2 linked regions of the Homo sapiens genome follow. The protein of the gene in region 1 interacts with the protein of each later gene in a pairwise test. Each region holds a gene or a part of one and is shown in the gene's direction. Other genes may lie near its edges.

Region 1 (3,825 bases):
AGGGCTGGTGATGTCTGCCATCACCGTCATCATCCTGGTCCTCTACTTTGTGATTGAGACGTTTGTCGTGGAAGGCCGGACATGGCTGGCAGAGTGCACGCCGGTCTATGTACAATACTTCGTGAAGTTCTTCATCATTGGTGTCACTGTGCTGGTCGTGGCTGTCCCAGAGGGCCTGCCTCTTGCTGTCACCATCTCCTTAGCTTACTCTGTCAAGGTAATCATAAAACTTACAGTTGATACTGTTTACAGACTCGGAAACTGGGGTAAGAAGTCATTGGGCGCCTTGGTGGCAGTATAAACTGGGGACGTTTGGGATAGCTCAAGGGAGGAGAGGAGGTGCCGAGCAGGGACCCAGGGGGCAGCTTTGCTGATCTGTCAGCTCAGGTCCCTCGGCATGAGATGGGCCAGAAAGCAGGCAGGCGGTGAGATACCCAGGGGTTCAGCATCTGCACAATGTGGGCAGTAGGACGGAGGGGCTGGGAGGCAGCGGGGAAGCGGAGAATCAGCAGAGGGCCCGGGACACTGGGAGGCAGTGGGAGGAGGTGGGGGGAGCCAGGTGTGGGGTGGTGGGGTGGTGGGGTGGTGGGGTGGGAGAGCTGCAGGGCTGGTGGGTAACTGAGAGGGGGCTCGGGCAGGGGAGGTCCCGGGTGCGCATCCCGCCCCCACCATTGGATGAGGTTGCTGATGCCTTACAGCCTCGCTATTGGCTCAGGGCTGACCAGGTGCCCAGTGGGCTTAGTGCCACACGTGGAGCTAGCTGAGCAGAACAGAGTCACGCGATGTTTGTGTTGACATCTCTCACTCCTCCACCCCAACAAGCACCTGGGCCAAATGCCCACACCCTCGCCCTTTGCAGAAAATGATGAAAGACAACAACCTGGTGCGCCACCTGGATGCCTGCGAGACCATGGGCAACGCCACAGCCATCTGCTCCGACAAGACGGGCACGCTCACCACCAACCGTATGACCGTGGTCCAGTCCTACCTAGGAGACACCCACTACAAAGAGATTCCGGCCCCCAGCGCCCTGACCCCTAAGATCCTCGACCTCCTGGTCCATGCCATCTCCATCAACAGTGCCTATACCACCAAAATACTAGTGAGCTGGGGCAGGAGCGGGCGGGCAGGGCCGGGGGCAGGAGCAGGGGAGGGTCCTGGCCAGGGTGCCAGGTGAGCTGTTGCAAGGTGCTCATTAGGCCCCCCCTTGAGAACTTTTGCCCATCCCTGGCCTCACAGGTGGCTCTGGCTGGGAAACTGCCTGTAGCTAAGGCCGACCTTCCTCTGCTCCCTGCCGCCCACACCCTAACAATGTGGTGACCACGAGGGGGCAGAGCTGGGGCTCCAGGGGCAGCATGGAGGGTGGTCTCAGGCCCCCAGTGCCTGCTAGCCCTCGTCATCTTGCAGCCTCCTGAGAAGGAAGGCGCCCTCCCACGCCAGGTGGGCAATAAGACGGAGTGCGCCCTGCTGGGCTTCGTCTTGGACCTGAAGCGGGACTTCCAGCCCGTGCGCGAGCAGATCCCGGAAGACAAGCTTTACAAAGTGTACACCTTCAACTCGGTCCGCAAGTCCATGAGCACAGTCATCCGCATGCCCGACGGTGGCTTCCGCCTCTTCAGCAAGGGGGCCTCAGAGATCCTCTTGAAAAAGTGAGTGAGCAGCAGGGAGGTGCCGGGGTACGCACGGAGTTTCTGATTCTATTGTCGTGGTAAAAGAGGCCGAACGTAAAATTCACCATTTCAACCACTTTACAGTGTACAGTTGAATGGCATTAAGCACGTTCACAATATCATGCAACCGTCACCACTACCCAGTTCCAAAACACCTCCATCAACCCGGAAAGAAACCCCAGGCCCATGAGCAGCCCTCCCCACGCCCCTCCCCAGCCTCATGTGCTTCCTGTCTGTATGGATTTGCCTGTCTGGACATTTCCTATCAAGGGACTCATACACTGTGTGGCCTTTTGTGTCTGGCTTCTTTCCTTAGTGTAAAGTTTTTCCGTTTCCCTCAGATATTAGACCTTCCTTTCTTTTTTTGTTTTGTTTTGTTTTTTCCCTCAAGCCATCCTCCTACGTCAGTGTCCCCCGTAGCTGGGATTACATGTGCATGCCACCACGCCCAGCGAATTTTCAAATTTTTTGTAGAGCTGGGGTCTCCTCATGTTGCCCAGGGTGGTCTTGAAGTCTTGGGCTCAAGCGATCCACCCACCCGGCCTCCCTAAGTGCTAGGATTACAGGAATGAGCCACTGCCACCAGCCCGAACTTCCATTCTTTCTAAGGCTGAGTAATATCCATTGTATGCTAAAGAGCATTGTGTTGGTCCATCCATCCCTTCATCTGTCTACCAGCACGTCTACCAGCACGTGAGTCGTTTCCACCTTTTGGCTGTCACGAGTCACGCTGCTGTGAATATTCACGTACAAGTTTTTGTTTGAACCCATGTTTTCAATTCTTTTGCGTGGACATCTAGGAGAGGAATGGCTGGGTCGTGGTGTCCACGAAACTGTTTTCCACAGGGGCAGCACCGTTTCACATTCCCACCAGCGACATAGGAGGGTTCCACCTTCTCCCCATCTTCAACAGCACTTATTTTCTGGTGTGACAATGCTGATGGGGGCCATCCTTGTGGGTGTGAGGCAATATCTCCTGGTGGTTTTGATCTGTGTTTCCTTGATGACTAACAACGCTGAGCCTCTTTTGCTGTGCTGACTGGCCATTTGCCTGTCTTCCTTGGGGAAATGTCTGTCCTAGCCCTTTGCTCATTGCTGAGTTGGGTTGTTTGTCTTTTTATTGTTGGGCTGTAACATTTTTTCTGTATTCTGGATCCTAGATCCTTATCAGCTATGCGATTTCTACACATTCTGTCCCATTCTGTGGCCTGTCTTCACTCTCTTGATAGTGTCCTTAGGTGCACAAATGTTTTAAATCGTGATGACGTCCAGTTGATCTATTTTCTTGTTGTTGCTTAGAGATGATGAAAATTTTCTTAGAGATGATGAAAATTTTCTGGAATTGGAGACTGGTGATGGTCGTGCAGCTCTGTGACTATACTAAAAACCATCGAATTATCTACTTTAAATGGGTGGACTGTGTGGTGCGTGAATTATATCCCAATAAAGCTATTAGAACAAAGTAAGGGAGAGTGCACAGCGTCACCTCCAAATGCCCTGGCTTCCCCACTCCCACTCAGCCTTCCCGGACTCCACACCCTTGGCCTTGGCGTCTCTGTCCACAAGTCACCTCGCTCCTCATGACTGCCGTCCCAGGGCCCTCAGGGCAAGGTCCTCTGCAGGACGCCCAGGGCTCCCCAAAGGCCCAGGCCCACGCTCCTTCCTGTGTTCTGCGGACTGGACCACCAAGTGCACCCTGCCTGGCCGCCCCACCCACAGCGCTCTCCCAGAACTCTGCCAGGTGCAGCGCTCACTGCCAGGGCCAGGACCACCTCCTCCCTGGAGCCATCCCTGCTGGTGTGGGGGCCTCAGCCCTCTTTCTGTGCTTCTTTTTTGGTGGGCACTGAGGGACACTGAGGCACTGCGGACAAAAGGCCCAGCCCAGCTTCACTCCCCCTTACTCCCATGCCTCAGTTTCCCTGGTGGCATGGAGATCACAGAATACTTATCTCTGGGGAGGGGTGTGAGGGTTCCGTGGGTGAATCCACATCCATAGGAGGCTCTCCGTCCACACAGCTTCTGTTATGATCATTTCCTTCGTCACCAGCCTCCCATGCAGTGGCAGCACCTGGCACTCACAGCCCCACTGGCTTCTTCCACCATGCCCGCCTCTGTGACCCTCGGCTCCTTTGCTCCCTCCTCTCCCCACCTGAAT
Region 2 (3,825 bases), about 39 Mb from region 1:
GAAAAAGACAAAAACCCAAGAAAAATGATTATGACTTCTAGTTCACTTTTGCCAATGATGCATTATAAACCTGAAGATATGACTGACAGGTGGAGACGATCATTTCAGACTCGCAAGCAATGGAGGACTAGAGTAGGAATACAGAGTCTGGCAAGGGCCAACCAACCTGAATTTAATTCTGGGATCACAAAAAAACCAGACACTAGGAATAAGGATCGACCAGGATTAAATCACCATAGACATGGAATTCAGCCCTGGTTCAAGTCATCTATGTAAATGAGAGAAATCTTGGGCCTTAAAATTGGATTAAGATGATTTCGTATTATTCAGGTTTCCAATTTTGGGGCATAAACAAACAAAAAAAACCCCATAATCCTAGATTTCAACTTATTTCTTTCAATAATTTTCAAATGCTGTCACTGAAATACAATGATATGCAGATATATGAGGAGACAATACAACATGAATCAGGTATGGGACAATAAGAGATAACAGAAATAAACTTACAAACACTTCAGATAATTGAATTATCAGACATACACTTTAAATAATCATTTGGAATGTGCACATGGAAATTACATGCTGATCTTAAACACTTCAGCAAGAAACTGCAAACTATAACAAATGACATTAAGATTTGAGAAACACCTAGAAAATATGGAACTTAAGCATAATATGAAAAACTAAGGGCCAGGCAGTGTCTTACACCTGTAATTCCAGCACTTTGGGAGGCCGATGCAGGCGGATCACTTGTGGCCAGGAGTTCAAGACTAGCCTGGACAACATGATGAAACCCCATCTCTACTAAAAATACAAAAATTAGCCAGGTATGGTAGCACACGCCTGTAATCCCAGCTACTTGGGAGGCTGTGGTGGGAGGATCACTTGACCCTCAGAGGTCAAGTCTGCAGTGAGCTGAGATCATGCCACTGCGCTCCAGCCTGGGCAACAGAGTGAGACTCTGTCACACACACAAAAAAAATTAATTAATTAAAAAATGAAAACCTAAGAACTCTGTGGCAGATTAGAGATGGCGAATTTCCAAATTTACAGAAGATTATTATAAAATATTAAAAATTAGCTGGGTATGGTGGCATGTGCCTGTAGCCCTAGCTACTCAGAAGGTTGAGGCAGGAGCATCACTTGAACTCAAGTGTCTTGAGGTTGCAGTGAGCTATGATCGTGCTATGACACTTCAGCCTTGATGAGAAAGCAACACTTTGTCTCTACAAATAAAAGATAAAATGAAATAATAAGATAAATCCAAAAGGAGTCAATAAAAGATAGAAAAATATAAAACGTATACTGAATGGCAGAATTAAAACCAAATATATCCCTAATTATATGAATTACTAAGGATTCTAAGACTGTCATATAGGCTTTCAAAAAAATAAGACAACTATATGTTACAAGAGGCATATATAAAGCATAAAGAAAGTAAAAGGATAAAAACAAACAAAAAAATTCCTCCATCTAAACACTATCCAAGAGAAAGACTGTATAGCTATATTAATATTTGTCAAAATAGACTTTTCGGCAAAAAACAAATACTCCAGTGAAAGAAGATTACTTACTATGAAAGATTTAATACATCTGGAAGACATAAGGTAATAAATTTGTATGTACATAATTATATGTAGATACATATGTAATATACATAGTATATACATTATAAAGTAAAAGAGGACAGAACTTCAGGGACAGATAGACAAGTCTACAATCATCGCATAAGATCTTAGCACATCCTTCTCAGCGATTGTATGAAAACAATTAACAAACCTGAACTCACTGACAAGTGAAGAATACATATTCCCATCATTGCACAAGAAATATTTATCAAAACTGACCATAAAGTAATTCCTCAACACATTCCAAAGGGTTGGAATAAATTGTTTATTCTTTGACTGAAATTCAAAAGAAATAGAAATGACTTCAAAATAGTAGAAAAACCTTCGTATATTTGGAAATTAAGAAATTGTTTCCCAATAAACTTTGACCTAATGGATTTCAAATCCATTGATGATTCTTCCCTAAGCTATCTATTACTAAGGTGATACAATGATAATTTTTCTCATTTTATTATTCTTCCTGCCTTTATTTGTTGGTATTATACTGTAAGGAAGTGTTTTCCCTCCAAGTCTTTGTTATTTATTAGTTCATGTTGGTGGAGACTCCTGGATTCTTTTGTATTCAGTGTAATATATATGATTCATTATTGCCCTTAATTATTTTGATGCTCAAATTGTCTCATATTTTTCTAATAAGAACTCCTTTTCATATATCCCATCAGCTTTTGAGCATTTGCCAGACTCACCTTTTACTTTCCATGCCCCAGTTCCGAAATTAGCCATTTCTTACAAGAAACCCTTTTAGTGGGCAATGGTTTTATAAAGCAGGATGCAGAAGCTCAGTATGCTCATTGCTAATAGGATATCATTGCTCCTATATATCAATACCTTTAATCCCAATTCACGAACACAGGACTCTTGCTACTTTCCAATTCTTTATTTTTCCTCATTTTTCTCACAGTGAGTAACTTTGTCCCCAAACCATTGATATATTTATTATTTATATTTTCTATATCCTACCATACAAGAAATTAATTTCAGAATTTCTATACCCATACCACTACCAATAAATGAAATGCAATGTTTAAAATTTCATTGCAATTTTATCTTTAGAATGTTTTCCACCAATGGCATATAGTCAAAGCATTGTCTTCAAAATGCTAGGATTAGTTTGAATTTTTTTTCTCTGTGGTTCTGATACCAATTGTTCACATTTAGGGATTTTGTTTTGTTTTTGCATGTATTCCCCAACCTTGTTGACTTTATTTTTTAATATGTAAAACTTTAATATGATGCTCCAACAGTCAAAACTAGGCAAATAAAATACTCAGAGAAGAGTCAGTTCCTCTTCTATTCCGTGGTTAACCCATTCATTAGTTTCTAGGGCATACTTCTTGAATTTATTTTTGCAAAAAAAAAAAAGATTATACACAAATACACGTATTGTTATTTTTCCATTCTTAAATTAAAAGTTAAAATGCTACATACAAATTAATACTTTGTTTTGCTTTGTTCTTTTACTTGGAAATATGTCCTGGAAATCACTCTATCAATTTGTAAGATGATAGATATGCACCCAACTTTATCATGTAAATGGCCTAAATACTCCAATTAAAAGCTAAATTCATTCTATTATTTTTTACACTCACTAATAATAGATTGTGTTGATATACTTTATTTAACCAATCTTCTGTGTATAATCAGGTAAGTTGTTTCCAACATTTGGAAGTTGCCAATAATTCTACTAAGAATAATTGTGTGTGTGTGTGTGTGTGTGTGTGTGTCCTTTGTGTGTGCGTGCGTGCATGTGTGTCTGTCTTGTGTGTTTGTGTGCGCGCGCGCGTGCATGTGTGTGTTTCATATTATTGGAAGTTTAACTTTTAAATAAATTCTTGCTCAAATGTATTCAGAATTTATCTTCTAAATAAATTCTTAGAGGAGGAGTTGATTGATCAAAGGGTACATGTAGTTAGGAGTTGAACCATTTTGCATTCCCACCAGCAATGCAAGAAAGCCTCTGTTTCCCCAAAGCCTTGCTAATGAAGTTTATTTTCAAACTTTTTAGATTTTGCAAATCCCATAAGTGAGAAATGTTACCTCAGTGTAATTTTAATTTGCATCTATTTTATTTGGCTGAAGTTCATATGATTAAATGTATGAAAACCACTTCAGTGCCATTGCTAAATCAGTTTTAAGTGTCCTTTTGCTCATTTTTTCTGATTTTTTTTCATTTTTATTTCTTAATTTAATAGCTCTT

Evidence for each region.
Region 2: the proteins of ATP2B3 (region 1) and HTR2C interact in a two-hybrid assay, tested with the Homo sapiens proteins (one large-scale study listed by BioGRID and IntAct).

Annotation. Positions count from the first base shown.
Region 1 is NC_000023.11:153,548,638-153,552,462, forward strand, and holds part of ATP2B3 (plasma membrane calcium-transporting ATPase 3), read left to right. Parts: intron 1-2; coding exon 3-217; intron 218-859; coding exon 860-1,102; intron 1,103-1,407; coding exon 1,408-1,649; intron 1,650-3,825. UniProt on the Homo sapiens protein: ATP-driven Ca(2+) ion pump involved in the maintenance of basal intracellular Ca(2+) levels at the presynaptic terminals. Uses ATP as an energy source to transport cytosolic Ca(2+) ions across the plasma membrane to the extracellular compartment.
Region 2 is NC_000023.11:114,849,441-114,853,265, forward strand, and holds part of HTR2C (5-hydroxytryptamine receptor 2C isoform a precursor), read left to right. Parts: intron 1-3,825. UniProt on the Homo sapiens protein: G-protein coupled receptor for 5-hydroxytryptamine (serotonin).